Homo sapiens: one gene and its partners. The protein of the gene in region 3 purifies or fractionates together with the protein of the main gene of each other region. This does not show direct contact. Each region holds a gene or a part of one and is shown on either strand. Other genes may lie near its edges.

The links. The genes of interacting proteins can lie anywhere in the genome.
Region 1: the proteins of WDR82 (region 3) and PPP1CC purify together in Homo sapiens (affinity purification with mass spectrometry; 5 studies listed by BioGRID and IntAct, with this or other methods). This does not show direct contact.
Region 2: the proteins of WDR82 (region 3) and PPP1CB purify together in Homo sapiens (affinity purification with mass spectrometry; 5 studies listed by BioGRID and IntAct, with this or other methods). This does not show direct contact.

The regions. Positions count from the first base shown.
Region 1 is NC_000012.12:110,725,865-110,732,891, reverse strand, and holds part of PPP1CC (serine/threonine-protein phosphatase PP1-gamma catalytic subunit), read left to right. Parts: intron 1-990; coding exon 991-1,122; intron 1,123-2,132; coding exon 2,133-2,363; intron 2,364-7,027. UniProt on the Homo sapiens protein: Protein phosphatase that associates with over 200 regulatory proteins to form highly specific holoenzymes which dephosphorylate hundreds of biological targets.
Region 2 is NC_000002.12:28,796,830-28,803,467, reverse strand, and holds the end of PPP1CB (serine/threonine-protein phosphatase PP1-beta catalytic subunit), read right to left. Parts: intron 4,270-6,638; coding exon 4,165-4,269; 3' UTR 528-4,164; downstream 1-527. UniProt on the Homo sapiens protein: Protein phosphatase that associates with over 200 regulatory proteins to form highly specific holoenzymes which dephosphorylate hundreds of biological targets.
Region 3 is NC_000003.12:52,275,645-52,282,724, forward strand, and holds the start of WDR82 (WD repeat-containing protein 82), read right to left. Parts: upstream 3,006-7,080; 5' UTR 2,718-3,005; coding exon 2,557-2,717; intron 1-2,556. UniProt on the Homo sapiens protein: Regulatory component of the SET1/COMPASS complex implicated in the tethering of this complex to transcriptional start sites of active genes.

The DNA.
Region 1 (7,027 bases), on a different chromosome or scaffold from region 3:
ATCTGTATCTAATGACTATCCAGTCTGTTACAACTGGAACCAAAACAAAATTTCTTTCCCACAACTACCTACGTGCTGACAAGTGAGTTCTGTTGCAAAGTTTGTACTTTGATAGAAGAACCCTAAGTGCTCTGGTGGTGTGGATGCCCCATGCTGTGCAATGATTTCTTTCTCCCATTATTATCTTATCTGTTCAAATTATTAGGGAACGTGCTTTCTTACAGTATAGCACATGACTGACATCCTTTGCCCTATATAGACATGAGCATAAACACAAATGCAGGCCCAGAAAATGCATGGCAAAATAAGTACAATGAACCAACATTTTCTTAATGAAATGAAAACAACACTAACATTTTTTCATAGGTAAATTAAATCAGAGATCCTCAGGAGGAGATACCCATGGTCCTCTGGAAAACACTGATGGGGGAGGGTTCTGAGTATTTCCAATCCTGTTTCTTTTCTTTTCTTTTCTTTCCTTTTCTTTTTTTTTTTTGAGACGGAGTCTCGCTGTGTTGCCAGGCTGGAGTGCAGTGGCGCGATCTTGGCTCACTGCAACCTCCGCCTCCCGGGTGCAGGCGATTCTCCTGAGTAGCTGGGATTACAGGTGCACGCCATGTTGGCGAGGATGGTCTGGATCTCTTGACCTCATCATGATCTGCCCGCCTCACCCTCCCAAAGTGCTGGGATTACAAGCGTGAGCCATTGCATCTGGCCTGCAGTCCTGTTTCTAACAGCATTCGCACAGACAGGATGGCTCCTTTTTTGGAATACTATAAAAGAAGTCTTACTTGGTATCGAAGATGCAATTAAGTCTTGTCTAAGATTTTAAGATTCTAATTAGACATTAAAACCATGTTTATTATAAGTGTCCTGAAAATGAAGCCACTCAGAAAGCTAGTTAAACCATGTTTTTGCCCCTTTATCTAAATCTCGTATTGTATTTTGTATTTTGGCTTCATTGGACTAATTGCGATTTTTCTCTTGCAGTGAGAGGGTCCAAGCCTGGTAAGAATGTCCAGCTTCAGGAGAATGAAATCAGAGGACTGTGCTTAAAGTCTCGTGAAATCTTTCTCAGTCAGCCTATCCTACTAGAACTTGAAGCACCACTCAAAATATGTGGTAAGTTTGGGGCACACAGGTTATCTTTTGTTACATGATTGATTAACTGAGTCAAGGATATGTTGATGACCTTGTATTAGCTAGCAGAATGATTATCCTGTTTGCGAATAGCTTGGAACTACTTAAAAGTAAGTTAAATAGTAGCTTTAGAATAAATACCTCTAATGGACTTAGTTTACTTAGATGTACTTCAGATTTTTAAAAAAAATATTTTGCTGAAGGAATAAACATTGCAAAAGAAAAAAATGAAACTAAGAATGGAGAGCTGAGGAAAGGTCTGAACTACATGGATGTATAGGAATATGTTTAAGTTTAAAGCAACACTGGTTATAGCTAAAAATAGAACTTCCTTGATACTGATTTTGTGGTTCTGTTTTCTGCATAATAGAAGCAAATAATCTGTGTTTTAACTCAATGTAAAACCAAACTTTATTCGTTTGAGTAATATATTCTTATAGCATATTTGCATTGATAAAACTTTGTGTTCATGTTTTTAAAAGTAAAATGTTCTTTGGCATTATCTAGCAGGGAGAAATTGAAAGCTAAATGCATTGATGGGTGGGGGGTGGGGGTGGTGTGTATGTGTGTATGTGCTTTTGTTCAGATGGGGCCAAGACTCACTAGAAGTGCAGCAGTTCTGCTGACACAGTACCCAGAGACTGAGCTGTCAGAGATCTGATATTGATCAGTCAGCCTGAAAGGGATACCATGTTACTTGGCAAGAATGCATGCTTGGACATAATAACCCTTTCCACAGAATAAATTCTTAATAGTTGAATTTTATGTGAGGTTCTGGACATACACATATACTTAAAATTTTTGTTAAGCTCAGTTGAACTAAATATGATATAAGATTGGAAATTACTTAGTGTTGGCTGCCCAGTTAAACTCTCATTACTAGAGGTCAATGCCATTGTACAATGAATATTTAAAGAATGTCTTTCCAAAGCTTTGTTAGTGGATTGAGCTTTAAGTATGGGAACACTGTGTAACAAAATTCTTGCTTCCAGGTGACATCCATGGACAATACTATGATTTGCTGCGACTTTTTGAGTACGGTGGTTTCCCACCAGAAAGCAACTACCTGTTTCTTGGGGACTATGTGGACAGGGGAAAGCAGTCATTGGAGACGATCTGCCTCTTACTGGCCTACAAAATAAAATATCCTGAGAATTTTTTTCTTCTCAGAGGGAACCATGAATGTGCCAGCATCAACAGAATTTATGGATTTTATGATGAATGTAAGTACTTTTCTATATCTAAGGAAGAGTTATTGAAATTAAGATATTTATCATAAACAATTATCACATACTTCTGTTAGGAATTGTGAGAGTTTAGATGCAGTGGTATCATCTCTCATGTTTTCTATTTCATCAACTTGTTTTTAGCTTAGCTTTTTTAGGGGGGTGGGGGAACGGAGTCTCACTCTGTTGCCCAGGCTGGAGTGCAGTAGCACCATCTTACCTCATTGCAACCTCTGCCTCCCAGGCTCAAGCAATCCTCCTGCCTCAGCCTCCCAGGTAGCTAGGACTGCAGACATGCATCACCACGCTTGGCTAATTTGTGTATTTTTTTGAAGAGATGGGGTTTCACCTTGTTGCCCAAGCTGATCTGAAACTCCTGGCTCAAGGAATCTGCCCGCCTAGGCCACTCAAAGTACTGGGATTACTGGCGTGAGCCATGATGCCCAGCCAGTTTTTTCTCTCTTGGGTAGAAAAATAACACTGCCGCTGTAATAAAATAAGGTCTTGGATTCTTTTATGATGTGATGATCAGATTAGGAAGTAATGATCATGGTAATGGTTGCTTTAAGATTTAAATTGTTGTATTCACAGATAACTTAATTCTTAGTAGAAATCTGAGAACCATTCCAAATAGTTTTTTTAAGCAACTTTATTATGTAATTTCATTCCATAAAATTATTCTGTTAAAAGTGTACAATTCAGCGATTTGTAGTAAATTTATAGAGTTATGCGACCATCACCATAGTCCCCAGGCAACCACTAATCTACTTTTTGTCTTTTCTAGAGAATATTGCATGCAAATGGAATCTTGCAATACGTAAATAATTAGTTTTTGAAATTATTATAGTTTTTCTCCTTCTGGCATATCCACACCCAGGAAGAATGGCAATAACTTTCCTAAAACTAAAATGTGCTGAACAAAGATTATTTTTACAGTATTTTACACATTTTGTGACCCATTTTGGATTGTTTAATTAAAGGTATACTTCGATTTGACTATTGACAAAACACAGTTCTTAAAGCTTTGAAAATAGGCTGGGCACAGTGGCTCACGCCTGTAATCCCAGCACTTTGGGAGGCCACAGCGGGTGGATCACAAGGTCAAGAGATCAAGACCGTCCTGGCCAACATGAGGAAACCTCATCTCTACTAAAAATACAAAAATTAGCCAGGCGTGGTGGCAGATGCCTGTAGTCCCAGCTACTCAGGAGGCTCAGGCAGGAGAATCACTTGAACCCAGGAGTCGGAGGTTGCAGTGAGCCAAAATCACACCACAGTAGTCCAGCCTGGGTGGCAGAGTGAGACTCCGTCTCAAAAAAAAAAAAAAAAAAAAGCTTTGAAAATATCAGTTCAGTAAAGGGTTTCAAGTCAGAAAAGGTTTTGAATCTTTACCTTCACCTTCCTTTTGTGCTCATCATTGCTGCCAGGACGGGTTTCAGGTTTGGAGTGAAGAGGTGGTTAAGGAACTTCAGGTACTTGGCATTTGCTAATATGATTATAGGGATATCAGCAAAGGGTTGTCCCTGTGGCCCTCCCCTAGACCACATCGTAACCTAGAGTCTCCAGATGCAGTGTTTTTCCATCTCAATTCACATAGATATGTTGAGCTAGCACATTTGTTAGAAGTGCATCCTAGAAAGATTATATTCACAAACTGAGCCCTTCTACTACCACCCTTTCCCACAACTGGATGTTTGCTTGGTCTGTGACCTTGAGATCCAGCTGATAAGATGGGGTGGCAGGAATCATCAGGGACAAAAATTCTATGGGTTCTGGACTGACTGATAGCATTGAACTTGTACATGAAAGGTATTCAATATTAACAGTGATTCTGTGTCAGAGAAGTACCAGTAAGCCAGTTACTACTCCTTAGGTAGTGAAATGCAAGGCAGGTGTGATGGGTTTTTTTTGTTTGTTTTTGAGACAGAGCCTTAGGCTGGAGTGCAGAGGTGGGATCATAGCTTACTACCACCTGTAATTTCTGGGTTTAAGCAATCCTTTCACCTCAGCCTCCCTAAGTGCTGGGATTACAGTCATGAGCCACCACACCCAGCCAACACTGTGTTTTGGATACTTATTCCAAGTGTTACTCTTGAGTTTTTTGTTTTTTGTTTTTTTTTTTTTTTTTGAGACGGAGTCTCGCTCTGTCGCCCAGGCTGGAGTGCAGGGCGCGATCTCGCCTCACTGCAAGCTCCGCCTCCTGGGTTCACGCCATTCTCCTGCCTCAGCCTCCCGAGTAGCTGGGACTACAGGCGCCCGCCACTACGCCCGGCTAATTTTTTGTATTTTTAGTAGAGGCGGGGTTTCACTGTGTTAGCCAGGATGGTCTCGATCTCCTGACCTCATGATCCGCCCGCCTCTGCTTCCCAAAGTGCTGGGATTACAGGCGTGAGCCACCGTGCCTGGCCTGCTCTTGAGTTAAAGGATTCCTTTTACATAGCTGTTAGCCCAGCAAATACTTTTCATGTTTGCACTGATGAATTCAAATCCAGTTGACCTCATTTTTGTGACGTGTATCCTAATGTAATGATACTGGCTGCATCAGTTTCGGTTTCTACTTAATGCAGAGGCCTTTAAAAAATGACTTAGAAGATCAGTGTTGGTTGGTATCAGTTTCGACTCCTGTTTGGTCATCAACACAATTTGTAGATCTTATGCTCAAGCTTCCTCTCTCTCATCAGGCAGATATAATTTGCCATCCAGTCTACTTGTGGGCATGAAAGTGCCCTTGACATAGGTGGCTTTTGGTTGAAGGCTTGCAGACATTTAATATATATATAAAATACTTAACTAATTTTATTAAAATGAAAAGTTGTATTCAAATGTTGATTTTCATGGGACAATTTAAAAACCACTGCCTGTTTTCCAGGTACATAAGTACTTTATACTACCATTTCTTTTTTTTTTTTTTTTAACTTTGTAAATGTGATGGAAAGGCTGAGGTATATGTTGTTGGGTAAAACATGAGTGTTTGTTGATCTGTTTCTGCTGCCGTAGCTGTCTGATGTACAGTAATGCGAAACCGCATTACAGGTTATGGCTCAGAATCTTAGGATTTGGAAGCTAGGCGATTACCCTGGCTAAACCTTTCAGGAGCCAGATGTTCCTAGTGGTCTGAGGTAGCCTTAGGGAGGAAATGAAGAGAGAATAGAAAGAGGCAGGCCCACGCTTAAAGTGCTGAGAGGGAAAAGGAGGAAACAAACTGATTTTTGATGGAGAAGCCAGCAGGAATCAGCAGGAGAAGCTGGAGTATGTGGCATAACTAAAGAATCAAAGCCGGGGCGTGGTAGCTCACGCCTGTAATCCCAGCACTTTGGGAGGCCAAGGTGGGTGGATCACTTGAGGTCAGGAGTTCAACCTGATCACAAGAGGTCAGGAGGTCTGACCAACATGGGGAAAACCCATCTCTATTAAAAATACAAAAATTAGCTGTGGTGGTGCACACCTGTAGTCGCGGACACTCAGGAGATTGAGGCAGGAAAATCACTGGAACCTGGGAGACCATGGTTGCAGTGAGCCAAGATTGCGTCGCTTCATTCCCCCTAGGTGATGCAGTGAGACCCCACCTCAAAAAAAGTATCCAGAAGTGAAGCTGACCTTGGGGAAAGAGGAAGTCACTGTCACTGGGGAGCTAAGACAGCAGCTCTGTTTTTATAATACAGGTTAAGTATTCCTTACCGGGAATGCTTGGCACTAGAAGTGTTGCAGGTTTTTTGTTTTTGTTTTTAATTTTGGAATATTTGTGTTATAATTACTGGTTAAACATCCCTAATCCAAAAATCTGAAATCCAGAATGCTCCAGTGAGCATTTCCTTTGAGCATCATGTGAGTGCTCAAAAAGTTCCAAATTTTGGAGCATCTTGGATTAAGGATACTCATCCTGTGGTGGTAGTAGTAGTAGTATTGCTGTTGGAAATGGGAGTTGGTGGTTTTTGGAGATTGCCCTTCAGCCTTTCGTAAGAAGGAGTTTGCTTTTTTTTGAGACGGAGTTTCACTCTTGTTGCCCATGCTGGAGTGCAATGGTGCGATCTTGGCTTACTGCAACCTCTGCCTCCCAGGTTCAAGCAATTTTCCTTCCTCAGCCTGGCGGGAGAAGTTTGTTAAACTTTCCGAACCCCCTAGTGAAGGACCTCTAAAGAAATATGCAACAGGGTGAACCATAGTCAGTGTTAGACCCAGTCATTGAGAAACCAGAAATTATTAGGAGAAAAGATAACACTCCTCTGCAGAGAGAAGGCAAACATTTGTTGAATTTACATTTCATTTCAAGCCCTGTGGTAAACTCCCTAAGCTGCTTGATTTGCATTACAGGGTGGGAGGTGTGGTTCAGGTCAGTTGCTTGGGCTGGCTCTAACTCTCAAAGGAGAGGTATAGGTTTAAACCTTTAGATGTCCCTGTATTCCCCAGGAAAAGAGACTAAGGACAAACTCTTGGTTTGTTTTGTTTGTTTTGTTTTGTTTTTTGAGACGGAGTTTCGCTCTTGTTGCCCAAGCCGGAGTGCAATGGCACAATCAAGGCTCACCGCAACCTCCGCCTCCCAGGTTCAAGTGACTCTTCTGCCTTAGCCTCCCAAGTAGCTGGGATTACAGGCATGCGCCACCACGCCCAGCTAATTTTTATATTTTTAGTAGAGACGGGATTTCTTCATGTTGGTCAGGCTG
Region 2 (6,638 bases), on a different chromosome or scaffold from region 3:
GACTACTTTTTTCTGTTGCACTGTATTACTTGCCTTTGTGGTTTTGTCGAGAATCAGTGTTTACATGATAGACCATAAATTACTGTGCCTTTTAATAAATTTGTACAATAATCTATGAAAGTTCTAGATGTTTAGCTGTGATGTCACTGGTTTTGTAGGAAAAATTTGGCCTGTAAATCTGCTGAATCATTCTGATTAGGCAGCTGTAAAAATTAATACATATTTTAACTTGCCGATCCTATGCCAGGCTTCACTGAAAAGCCTCCAGGAACAGACCTTAGGTTCCCACCTTTTTGCATATAGTATCTGAAAGGAATGCTGAACCTATTAGCCTCAGGCCGTTAGTTTGTTCTCTCTTACACACACACACACACACACACACACACACAAACCCTCCCCACCCGCACCCCCTGTTCACTTGCTATCTTCCACCCTGTATACCCCAAACAATGTGGTGTTGTAAGTAAGATTTCATAATCACATAAACTAGCAAAGATCCCTAAGAGGAAAGAAGCAAAGATTTATGGTCATTTTTGTAAAAATAAGGTTTAATAAAACATCAGCAATCTGCATGAGAAGGTAAATTACAATGAGAAACTTAAAAAGCTTACGGTCTAAGTCAACCAATGTAGAAGGTAGTGGTTGAAGAAAACAAGCTTTGACTTTTAAAATTTCCTAACCAGGGGATTTATTTAGAAATTCTGGCATTCAAATGTACATGTAAAATCCAATTTAACAGATCAAAATTGTTACACTAAGTTTCACTTAGTATCTAAGTATCCAATCACAATTGTATCTAAGTTTCACTTTTAAGAAACATTATAAAGGTAATTAAAACTCTAGGTGTATACTTATATGGAACTAGTTTATTTCCTATTTAACTACTGTTCATTGCGTAAAGTATGTTGTCCCAATTTTCAGCTGTTTTAAGGAATTATAAAACATTGAGATCTACTAGGAAGAGGGAAAGCCTACTTCTAAGTGATGCCACTAGTACAATCAGGCTTGGATTAAGTCTCTTCTCAGGGGCAGCTTTGATTTAGCCATGGACTCACAAGGAAAACAAGAGGTGGATTTGGTTAGGGAGCAACAGCAAATTCAGCCCGACCATATTCCTAATCTAAACACATTTTCAGCATAAAGATGTAAAAACAATTTTTTTTGGTTCAAAAGTTATGGTTGCCATGGAGACAAAAAGAATATACCTGAATTTATAAACTGAGATATATTTCAGCTCCTTGGCTTAAAATAATACATCTTTATATTCTTGAGACATATCTCAAGATGTTCCTTGCTTTGCCTTGAATAAAAATTTTTTTGAAAAGCCTATGTTTCTCGTGAACACACTCATACTTCAAATTTACCACCTATTTTAAGCTTTAAAATTCTTCTTGCCAGCATTTTTCAGCTAAAAAAAATCATTTCACGAATGTTTAGGTACTTTTTACAATGAAGGGATATGGCAGCATGGATACTGGGTAGCTGGCTAGGCTCTAAATACCTGATGACTCAACGCTTTGCACAAACCAGTCTTGCTGATTATTAAAATTTGTCCCTGGGCAAAATTAAAGCAATGCATGTTAAGGCTTCAAATGCAAAGGATTCACTGTAGTTGATTCTTTCAAGAATAGAAATCGACCATAACTTTGCTTTATAATCCATGTGATACACCACATTATAACAGATATCTACTGTGTTTCATGATTTCTGAATGTCATAACATTTGGATTAAATTGTATACAAAAAAATCACTAACCTGAAAAAAATCAGAGGAAAGAACAATATAAATTAGTGACACTGGAATTACAGAATCATTTTCTCCTAAGAAACAAAGTTTTATTTATTTCAAGTCGTGTTGCCAAGCAAATATTTGTAAAGAACACATTTTTATGACTGGAGGCTGTTTAAGTGGTTTTAAGAGTGCTTGAATAATTTTTAAACATGATAAATTTCCATCCTTTAAATTTAATGACCAATATTAATTAGCTTAAGTAGTGATTATTTTTTCACATTTAGTCTTTAAAAAAAAAAAAAAGGATTCCTATTAACCAACATACTTAGTCTTGACCTGGATGAATTTACAAAAGCCAGACAATGGGATACAGATTAATGTGGTTTAATACTGAGATTAATCAACATTGCCCTTTTTCCCTGCCAAAGGCTTATTTTCTAGACCTGCTTCACTATGACTACTAAAAGTGTACAACTAAAATTTTATTAGAAATCGCTCAGCTTACACACTCCAATCAGGAAGTTATTTAAATCACCTCAGATAAAACCTTTGTGACCTAACCTAATACATCATATGCAGATCATGAATACTTTCAGAAAAGAATCATTTCAATATGTCAAGGACATAGTATCTATGTGAATAAAATGTGTGCTTAAATGTCTCACTGTAAGGAAAAAAAAAATCAGTCAGGCTTCATATCAATTAGACAACTTTTACTAAATGAGAAAACTACATTTAAAATGTGCTTTAAAACAAAACGGAATTAGAAAAAAAGACATATGCATTTTAAAGAACTTTTGCACTGTGCTGAAAATGAAATATCTCTTGCAGTAAGTAATACAATGTGCCAATTCATAAAATGTAAGTTAACAGGTTTCTCAATTTAACATTTTCAAAGACGATATTAAGGTCAAAAATGTCACATCTATGGTAGCACATATAGAAGGGCATTATAGATATGATGTCCATCCCTATGAAGCTTACAAATTTGACAATGCTCAATAAAAGCTTTTAGAATCACATCCAATAGTGTCACAGTCAAAGAATCACAAATCTGTGTCCTGTAAGTTCTCTCCTTCTAAAATCTTCATGTTAACTTTTCTACTCATTGCCATTTGTTAATACTAACCCTTAAAAAAAAGAAATAGGAAAAGAAAGGCTGCAATAAACTTGATCAGGTACAGAAATTATTGCTACTATACTTCACTACAAAGCTTGTCTATACAGTATCATATGACCTTTGATTATGAAAAAATCAGAATAAAAATCTTTAGTGACATAAGCCTTACAATCGTATACAACATTCACATGGCAATATTAGACAGTTAAGCACCCAATACCCATAGTTGACAAAATGTCCCACTGACCAGCATTCATTTAAATACATCCTTCGTATAGAGGGAGGAAAAAGAGACAGTGTCAGCTTTCCAAGGCTTGTCAAAAAAGGATTCTCATGTACTGTGGATCTAAAAACAAACAACAACTCAAAAAAAAAAAAAAAAAAAAAAAGAAAGAAAAAAGAAAAAGAAAACCAATGCAGGTGAAGGTGTTACCAGGAAGTTAAGCATGCCAAAAGGTGTTCCGTGCGAATGAAAACCTAAAGCCAAGGTACCACATAATCACATTACCAACTAGTTGGGTAATACTATATGAGCCTTATCTTAAATGAAATGCTACTGCACAATAGAGCATCAATAAGTTAAAAATTAGAGTGCACAAATCCAAATCAGTGTCAATTCCTGTATAAAGCAAAATATTCACTATCAGCTGTAAAGTTTGCCCAGTCAAACTGTATGATTAAAATCACTGGATTGGACAATGTGCGTATTTTTTTTTAAAACAATCAATCTCTAAAATTCCTTTTTAATGTAATGAGGCGAAAGTTTTCTTAGTAAGATTAAACAGATATCTAAGTAGATAAACAAGGGAAAATAATAGTTGGTGAATGTCTGTAAAGCTCTTCCCATATTTCACTTTTAAAAATGTTTAGGGAAAAAAATTAGAAGTATTTGCCATTATTCTAGTGAAAACAAACAAAAACAAAACAAGCTCAAAATAATTAAACAACCAAGCAACACTAAAACCACATTACACAGATGGATCATCATGCTTTCATCTGGTTTAACTATCACATCTAGTTTAACTGGGATGCTTTTCAACTTTAAAAATTGTGATACATGAAGATGTAACTTTAATGGATAATTTTGAATTTGGATTTAACTTTGTTGACTATAACAGAGTATACTTATTACAATACAGTGTAGCACATCTTTCTATTAGAAAAAAATTTAAGATCCTTTACCCGTCTCCTTAAGTTAAAGGTGTGACATCATAAAGGGTGTCAAATGGCTGGATGGTTTTACAGTGCACACTTATATATTATGAAGTATGTCCTTAACAAATCTGATGGTTTCTTTACAGAATTCCTTTCTTCACCTTTTCTTCGGCGGATTAGCTGTTCGAGGTGGAGTGACAGGACGTCCAGAATTCAGTCCACCATACTGGTATTTAGCTTTCTTTTCAGATGGTTTCAATATCTTAAAGTAAATTATTAACAAATAATGTTATTTTTTCATGTACAGAAGTTAAGAAAATTGTTACAATTGTGATTTTCAATAAATGGCATAAACTGCAAAAATGCAATAAAAATGTAGAATAGCAAAGTTCCATAAACATTTCTTAAAGTGTGCAAATGTCTGAACTTTGTCATTCCACTCATATTTTAATAACAAAAGTACACTAACTCTATCAACTATCCAATCCTTAGATTTAAGTAAAAAACTTTTTGAACTTAGTGTATCTCTGTTGTGAGGAAAAGAACACTGGTTTAAGAGTCAGAAGATCTATGTTGTCATCATAATTCTGATACAGTAACTTAGGAGGGTAACTAACCTACAAGTCACAAACCCTTCAGACCTTATTTATTTATGTATAAATAGATCTTTTTACTTAAAAAACAGCTTTATTGATATAAATCTAATTTTAGAACATTTGTCACCCCAAAAAGAAAGCTTGTTCCCATCAGCAGTCACTCCCCATTCCTGCTCTCCACATCCTCTAACTCTAACCAACTACTAATCTACTATGTGTCTCTATAGAATTGCCTATTCTGAACATTTCATATAACTGGCATCATATAATATGTGGTCTTTTGTGACTGGCTTCTTTCACTCAGGTTTTCAAAACCAGTTTTGAAGTATCAGTCCTTCATTCCTTTTTATTGCTGAGTTGTACATTGTACAGTCCATTGTATGGATGTACCACAGTTTATCTATTCAGTAGCTGATGGACATCTGAATTGTGTGACTTTTTCGGCTATAAGGAATAATGCACATTTATGTAACAGTTTTTGTGTGAACATGTTTTCATATATCTTGGGTATATACCTAGAGGTAAAACTGCTGCATCATATGAGAACTCTATTCCCACCATTAATGTATGAAGATTCTAATGCCTCCAAATCCTTGCCAAAACTTGATACAGTCTGGCTTTTTTACTACACTCATTCTGGTGGATGTAAATAGAGCTTTAACCTACATTATACATAAAAAAGTCATGATTTTCCAAAACTAAAACAGTATAGAAATATGTACAAAGTATTTTTTAAAAACTATTTAGAACATAATAGTGCCTTAGTGAAGAGAATATATTAATCCAACACCACTATGACAACTGCTGGAAGGATAAGGTATGGTTACTATATTTAATTTGTAAATGAGCAATCAACCATTTACCATTCAATTGTACTAATTGATGGAAACAGTATATTATGATAAAGAGAAAGAGGAATGGGAAAGCCCCAATGCATTTTAAGAGAAATACAGTGTGTGTACATCAAAGACATAGAATAGCCTTTGCAAAAGCAAAGTACTGAAGCTGTTTTACTCAGTGAACAAGAATGATTTGTAGGAGCACACTAAAGCTAAAACTGGCCTCTTTTAAAAATGTAAATGTTGAAACCAAAAGTTGGTTCTTCAAAAGAATAAACAAGATAGACTGCTAGCTAGATTAAGAAAAGATCCAAATAAGCACAATCTGAAATGAGAAAGGTGACATTACAACCAACCCCACAGACATACAAAATACCTAGAGATTATAAACACCTGTGCACACAAACTAGGAAACCTAGAATAAATGAATACATTCACAAAAACACACATGCGCTCCCAAGAAATGAATTCATAGAAACACACATGACCTCCTAAGAAATGAATAAATTCATAGAAACACACACAAACTCCGAAGACTGAACCAGGAGGAAATTAAAATCCTGAACAGAACAATAACAAGTTCCAAAACTGAATCAGTAATAAAAAAACCTATAAACCAAAAAAAGCCCTGGCCCAGAAAGATTCACAGCTGAATTATATCAGATGTACAAAGAGCTAGTACCAATCCTACTGAAACTATTCCAAACAATCCAGGAAGAGGACCTCCCCCCTAACTCAGTCTACGAAGTGAGCATCATTGTAATACCAAAACCTAGCAGAGGCACAAGGAAAAAAGAAAACCTCAGGCCAATATCCCTGATGAACACAGATGCAAAATCGTCAACAAAATACTAAAACCGAATCCAGCAACACATCAAAAAGTTAACTCACCACAATCAAGAAGGGTTTATTCCTGGGGTGCAAGGTTTCAACATATGCAAATCAATAAATGTGATTCACCTCATAAAATTAAAAACAAACACCATATGATCATCTCAATAGATGCAGAAAGGCTTTCAATACAATTCAACACCCTTTCATGTTAAAAACCCTCAACAAATTAGGCACTGAAAAATTAGGAACATACCTCAAAATAGTAAGAGCCATCTGACAAACCCACAGCCAACATCGTACTGAAAAGGGAAATGCTGGAAGCATTCCCCTTGAGAACTGGAACAAGAGACTAGGATGACCAT
Region 3 (7,080 bases):
GGAGGCTGAGGCGGGTAGATCACGAGATCAGGAGTTCAAGACCAGCCTGACCAACATGGTGAAACCCTGCCTCTACTAAAGATACAAAAATTAGCCAGGCATGGTGGCATGCACCTGTAATCCCAGCTACTCAGGAGGCTGAGGCAGGAGAATCGCTTGAACCCAGGAGCCGGAGGTTGCAGTGAGCCAAGATCACGCCACTGCACTCCAGCCTGGGCGACTGAGCGAGACTCCATCTCAAAAAAGAAAGAAAATCCATGTTGAAGTGTTTAGGGATAAAGGGGCTTGATACCTCCAACTCTAAAGGTGGGGGGAGGCACACAGTACATATAAATATTTACCTACAGTCATGAAGCAAATGCAGAAAATGTAACCAGTTATTGAATCATATGGGAGTTCTTTGAAACACTGTAACTTTGTTAGTTTCTAATTATGTAAAAATGCTACGAGTAAATAAACTGCCTTATGTCACAAAACTAGCATTTTACTTTTAACAAGACAGGATTTGGCCAGGCACAGCAGCTCATGCCTATAATCCTAGCACTTTGGAAGGCCAAGGCGGGTGGATCACTTGAGGTCAGGAGTTCAAGACCAGTCTGGTCAACATGGTGAAACCCCATCTCTACTAAAAATACAAAAGTTAGGGTATGGTGGCAGGCGCCTGTAATCCCAGCTATTTGTGAGGGTGAGGCAGGAGAATCGCTTGAACCCGGGAGGCAGAGGTTGCAGTGAGCCAAGATCGCGCCACTACACTCCAGCCTGGGCGACGGAGAGAGACTCCGTCCCCCACCCGAAAAAAAAAAACAAAAAAAAGAAAGACAGGACTTCATGTCAAGGTCATCCTTCCCAAATCAAAATTACGCCAAATTTGGGGACAAACTGCAAAGAAATGCTATAACAACCTTCATTTCCTTTAAATGAGGATATACATCTCCACCCTCAGGTTCTGGGAAGAGGTTCTAATCTGTGCATAAGCACTATACATTTCATGCAAGCCAGCTTCAAATTACTCCTCCAGGACCCCACAATGCTGACCCTACTACCACACCTTTAAATGTTACTTCGTCTTCTAAACTGATTCAAGTGACCAGACCAGGACAGAAATCCATCTACTCAATGAGTAACACTGACTCAAATAACTATTTGTCCAGCTAACAATTCCCTCTTCCTTAAGACCACCACTGCAGACCACTCTGCCACAAACTGCAGGCAGATCCAGAGCCGGTTACATAATACTTTCTCACAGCCCCAGTGGGGAAAAAAACTGGGGGGATACCATTATAGCTCAGTCCAAACTAGCATTACTTCAGATAATCAAATTCACAAATGAAGAGATATGTTCCAAAAGAAGGACACCAGTCTAAAAAAAAAAAAAGGAAAAAGGAACAGCTGGAGAAGGTGGAGAAAAACCCAAGATCTCAAATAATAATAATAATAATAATAATAATAATAATAATATCTGTTACTAGGTGACAAAATCAAGTCTGAAAAAACCAGGGTCCACCGAATTAAACCAAACATCAGCAAGCCTTCTTGGGGAAGGTGGCTAAGGGTAAAACGAATTTAATCTAAACTAGTTTTTGGCTCCAAGGAGCTGCAAGTCCACAGGCGTGCGGTGAGGAGGGCTGACAAGGACCCCCAGGGAAAAAGGCAAAGTGCTGTGCTTAGATTTTGCGAAAAGATGCAGGTATGGTGGGTCTCCAGATGACTTGTGGCAACATAAAAGTTTCATGATCAGAATTGGAATTCAAAGTGGACCAAAAAGTGTAATAGAAAAAAAAAAGTATGAAAGGAAACCTGAAATTGTTCTACGATGCTTGCTTTGTTTTAACGGAAGCTCACATTCAGGTCAGGATGGGACGACCAAGTTCGTTTGTGTGTGGCAAAAAGGAAGTTTTAGATGTTGCTGAAAAGTTCACTTATGAACGTGGGCACCAAGTCTGAATGAGTAAGAGAAAGGCTAGGAGCAGGAAGAAAAAGCAAGGGGGCTCAAAGGGGCACAACAAATAAATCCTGACAGCTAAGAAGTGCAACCCACGCGGTCTGACGGCAGAAAGGCCGCGGGAAGCTGAGGGGCAGGGGATGGGCGGAGTGCCAGGGCGGAATCGAGGTCACAGTGGAGAGAGCACAAGAGAGAGCTGACGCTGCCGAAGGAGGCAGAAAAGCAGCCCCTGCAGTCCTGCGTCGAGGCCGGAGCAGACCAGCACCTTTGACAGCCTGAGGAGCTGAAAACGCTACCTGGTGGGCCCAGGGTGGGCGGACCGGGCGTTTAAAGGTCAAGGTCAAGGTGGGGTTTGGCAAGTGATGCATAGCGCTCAAAGGAGACCGAAGACATACAAATAATATTATAAAATTATGACTATCGTTATCTTTTTTTTTTAAGAAGAAAAAAATAAAAGGTCTCCTGGACGGCTGCGGGGTGGAGGCGGCCCTGGCAGGAACGCGTGCAAAATAGGCTGGGGGCTGAAGTCGGGACGGAGGGCAGGCCGAGGGACCTGTGCTGGGCCACCGGAGGGAGGCACTGAGACTCGGGCCCAGGGCCTCCGCCGCACTCACTTGCCCTCCTGGCAGTCATAGAGCACGATGGAGTCGTCGTCGCTACTCGAGATGACCGTCTCGCCGTTGGGGCTGAAATCGAAGCAGTTAATCTTGTCCGAGTTTTCGCGGAACACCTTAGCGACGCGGAAGCTCCGCAACACGCTGTCGGTCAGCTTCATGGCGGCGGCTGGGGAAGGCAGCGGCGGCGCAGGGCCGGGGCGGGGCCCGGCGGCGAGCGGGCGGGCTGCCGAGGGGCCAACCCAGGCGGGGCGGGCGCCGCGCCGGCGGCTAGCGGGAAGTCGGCCAACAGTTGGGCCGCCTCCTCCTCTTCTTCCTGCTTGGTCGAGGGTCTTCTGCCTGGACTGTGGAGCCTCGCCGACCGTTCGTCCTCACAGCCACCTCACGGACAACCGGCGCGTCGCCGGCTCATTGTGTCCGCCATTTTGGGGCGACAGGCAGAAGCTGAGGGCGAGGAGCCTCAGCCGCGGCGCACGCCGGGAAAGGGGGCGGGGCGGGAACGGCGGAGCAAGGCGGGGAGGCGGGGTGGTGACGTCAGCGCGGCCGCGGCGGAGTGTAGTGGCGGGGCGGGCTGCTGGCAGGGAGCGGCCGAGACGTGCAGGGCCTTCCCGGGGGATCGGAAGGTTGCGGATGCCTTGGGAGCCGGGGGCCCTTGCGCGGGATTGCAACCCCCGCGAAGACTCTGGCGCCTCCTGCAGGCGTCCCGATCGCAGGCTGCGTGGGAGGGGGTACTGCAGGGTCGGGTATGCTGCTGGAGGCCGGTTTTGGGGGTGACTCAGGTGAGCCGCTCGCAGGCAAGCTTGACCGCTAGTCCACCGCAGCGTCCGCTTAGACAGCTTCGACCTCTTTACTTTTTTTTTTTTTTTTGGAGATGGAGTCTCTCGCTCAGGCGCGCGCCACCACGCCCAGCTAATTTTGTATTTTTGGTAGAGACGGGGGTTCACCATGTTGGCCAGGCTGGTCTCGAACTCCTGACCTCACCCGCACCCGGCCTCGTTTTCTTAATCGAGGTAGACTTTAGGTACAGTAAAAATCAGCCTTTTTAGGCCGGGCGCGGTGGCTCACGCCTTTAAACCCACCACTTTGGGAGGCCGAGGCGGGATGATCGCTTGAGCTCAGGAGTTGAGACCAGCCTGGCCAACATGACAAAACCCCACCTCTACTAAAATACAAAAAATTAGCCGGGCATGATGGCGCGGCTGAGGCACGAGAATTGAGAAAGGCGGAGGCTGCAGTGCGCCGAAATCGTGCCACTGCATTCCAGGCTGGGCGACAGAGCAGACGGTTTCCCCCCAAAAATTAGCCTTTTTAGTGGCTAGTTTTATGTTCTGACACCCATACACAGTCATGCAGTCACCACCACATTCAAGATTTGGAAGAGTTGCACTATCCTGTTTGTAGTCAACAGGATTATTTTAAAGGTTCTATCATATAAGTGATTATTTGCCTTAAAAGAAAGTTTATCTCTAACAAAGGAAAGCAGTATTTGAACAGAAAATAGGAACCAAGCTTCCTAACCTTAACTTTCTGGGCAAGGGGTTAAACTCAATGCCAACCTATGTGGCTTCACAGATCTGTATCTTGTGTGAAGCTCCTCAAAAGGTTAATTGCCTGGGGTTTCCAACAATGAAGATGGGGATTATTTATTTTTGCTTTCTTTAGCTAAAGAGAAACAAAAACGAGGAAAGGCTGTGAGACATTTCAGTCGCTATTAGGAAGGTTATTATCCAGAGACCTGTGCAATGGTAAAAAACAAAATGGAAACCCTGGGACAGTTGGGGTCTTTCTAGAAAGAACTAGAGGCTGTATCCCAACCCCCTGGGTAAAAGGAGAGCCAGGATCCTTATACATAAAGAGAAGTTGTTCTCTAAGGGAAGAGGCAAGTTCCTGGCTAAGTCTGGGGTATAATTGCCTCCTGACAAAGAGCAGAGCTTCTGGCTACAATTTGTTCTGGGGTCTGGAAAAAGCCGGTTTGAGTGAAACCTGAATAGATGGCAACTTTCCAAACTGCACACAATGGAAGAAAAACCCTCCACGTCCCAGATCACTTGCTCTGCTTCCCTGTAATTCCTGTGCCTTTATTTCAGAAGCTAGAAAGTCTGATACAGCGTCTGCTTCGAATAGTTTAGAAGGCAACAAGGACAGATCGAGTACCATGTTCTAGAACTGTCGGGAAGTGAACACACCCAGTAAGATGATGCCATATTTTGGTCCATGTTAATCTACAAAAATAACCACAGAAACAGCTGTAATCTACTGAATGTTGCCAGCCAAAATAAATCTTTGCAGGGTATTTTTCAAGTATTGTACTTCCTATACCTTTTCCAGATTTCACCGTTAAGACCAAACCTTCCTCCCAAGACTTGACTTTCTGCATTATTTTTGGAATGCAGTCTTTTTTTTTTTCCCCCATTTTTAAGAGGGTCTTCAAATCCTCATCCTGTTTCGCATTCTTACTGTTTCCAATTCCTAGCCTGGCTCCCTGCCCTATTATAGTGGGGCTCTCCTGGCTTCCAGCCCAACAGTATGGTTGCCTTAAAGGATGGACTTTAGGCCAGGTGCGGTGGCACTTTGGGAGGCCGAGGTGGGTAGATCACAAGGTCGGGAGTTCAAAACCAGCCTGGCCAAAATGGTGAAACCCTGTCTCTATTAAAAATACAAAAATTAGCTGGGCACAGTGGCGGGCACCTGTAATCCCAGCTACTTGGGAGGCTGAGGCAGGAGAATCGCTTGAATCCGGGAGGCAGAGGTTGTAGTGAGCCGAGATCACACCACTGCACTGGGCATTAGAGCAAGACTCCGTCTCAAAAAAAAAAAAAAAATGGACTTTAAAAAGTGACACAGAAAGCCGGCTCCAGTGGATGGGTGGATGGAGAGAAAGCTGCAGTCAAGAGTGAATCAGATGGGCTTTAAAAGAGCATCAGACTTAATTTTTTATGTTTCCTTTTATTTGTAGTCATTCTTTTACTTGTCACATATTCATTGCAAAAAAACTAAAAAATACAAATAATAAAAACAGCATCCAGAGATAGCCACTGTTACAATCTTTTATTATAGTGAAATATATATAACACGAAATTTACCATTTTGATGTAGAACCTTTCCGATTTTTTCATATACATATATATATATATATATATTTTTTTTTTTTTTTTTTTTTTTTTTTTCCTGCTCTGTCACCCAGACTGGAGTGCAGTGGCGTGCTCTCAGCTCACTGTAACCTCCATGTCCTGGGTTCAAGTGATTCTCCTGCCTCAGCCTCCTATAGATGCCCGCCACCACGCCCAGCTAATTTTGTATTTTTAGTACAGACGAGGTTTTATCATGTTGGCCTGGCTGGTCTTGAACTGCTGACCTCAGGTGATCTGCCTGCCTCACCATCCCAAAGTGCTGGGATTACAGGCATGAGCCACCACACCCAGCCAATCCCTGAAATATATTTTTATTGGGTTCATAATATATTGTTTGTAAGTTTACCCATACTATGAACATATTCCAGGTCAATAAATATCGATACAATCATTTTGAATGGCTACAAACTATTCTATTATATGGCTGTAAAGTAATTTTGCTTCCCATTTTGTCCAGAGCCCAGCCAGAGCTCAGTATGGATTAATTGAATAAATGAATTTATCCAAAGGATTCCAGATACTTGATTGGCCCACTTATTAAATTTTTCTATTTCATGCTGCACAATTGGAATGGAAACTGTCCTAAACAATGTGTCCTCTTTCCAAAACACAGAGCTCCTTATGAATTCTAATTCTTTGAGATAAATTTCTGAGCTCCAGTGCCCAGCAGCAGGGCTTCCCTAGAGATTGACTAACGTCTTACTCAACCCTTGGAATAACTAGAATCAGGTGACTCTCTTCTTTGGGACAGTTGCATGTGTGTAAGTGTGACAGTGTGTGTGTGTATCAGTGCTTACACAGCCCTCGGAATAACTAGAATCAGGTGACTCTCTTCTTTGGGACAGTTGAGTGTGTGTGTGTGTGAGCTTAATTGCCAAAGAGGAAACGCAGAACACTAGAACACAAAATGCCTGGTGAGGTGTCTGAGCCCCAGCACCAGGAAGTGGTCGCCTCACAGGTTGGCAAAAAATTTACTGACAACAGTATAGGTTTGAAAAAGGAAAATTTCTTAGAAAGAAAGAACGCTGCAGAAGAGTGCAGCGGGGCACCCCAGCGAGAGGACTGAGGGCCTTGGTGGATTTTCCTTAGGTGCATTTATGGACCTTCAGGCAGGAGCTTAGGGTTGTAAAATTAGTTTCAGCATGACATTCCAGAGATGCCTAGAAATTTTAGTTACTTATAAAAGTTGAAAGAGGCCTGGAACCAGATGCCCACTTTAGATACTAGGGAAGTTTAATTACTTCTAATTTCCCCAGATAAGGAGTTTTGCCTCTGGATGGCCTGTTGGATGGTTACCAGGTGGTCTTTGCTCCCTTCTAAATTCCTCAGATAAGGGCCAGGCACAGTGGCTCATGCCTGTAATCCCAGCACTCTGGGAGGCCAAGGTGGGTGA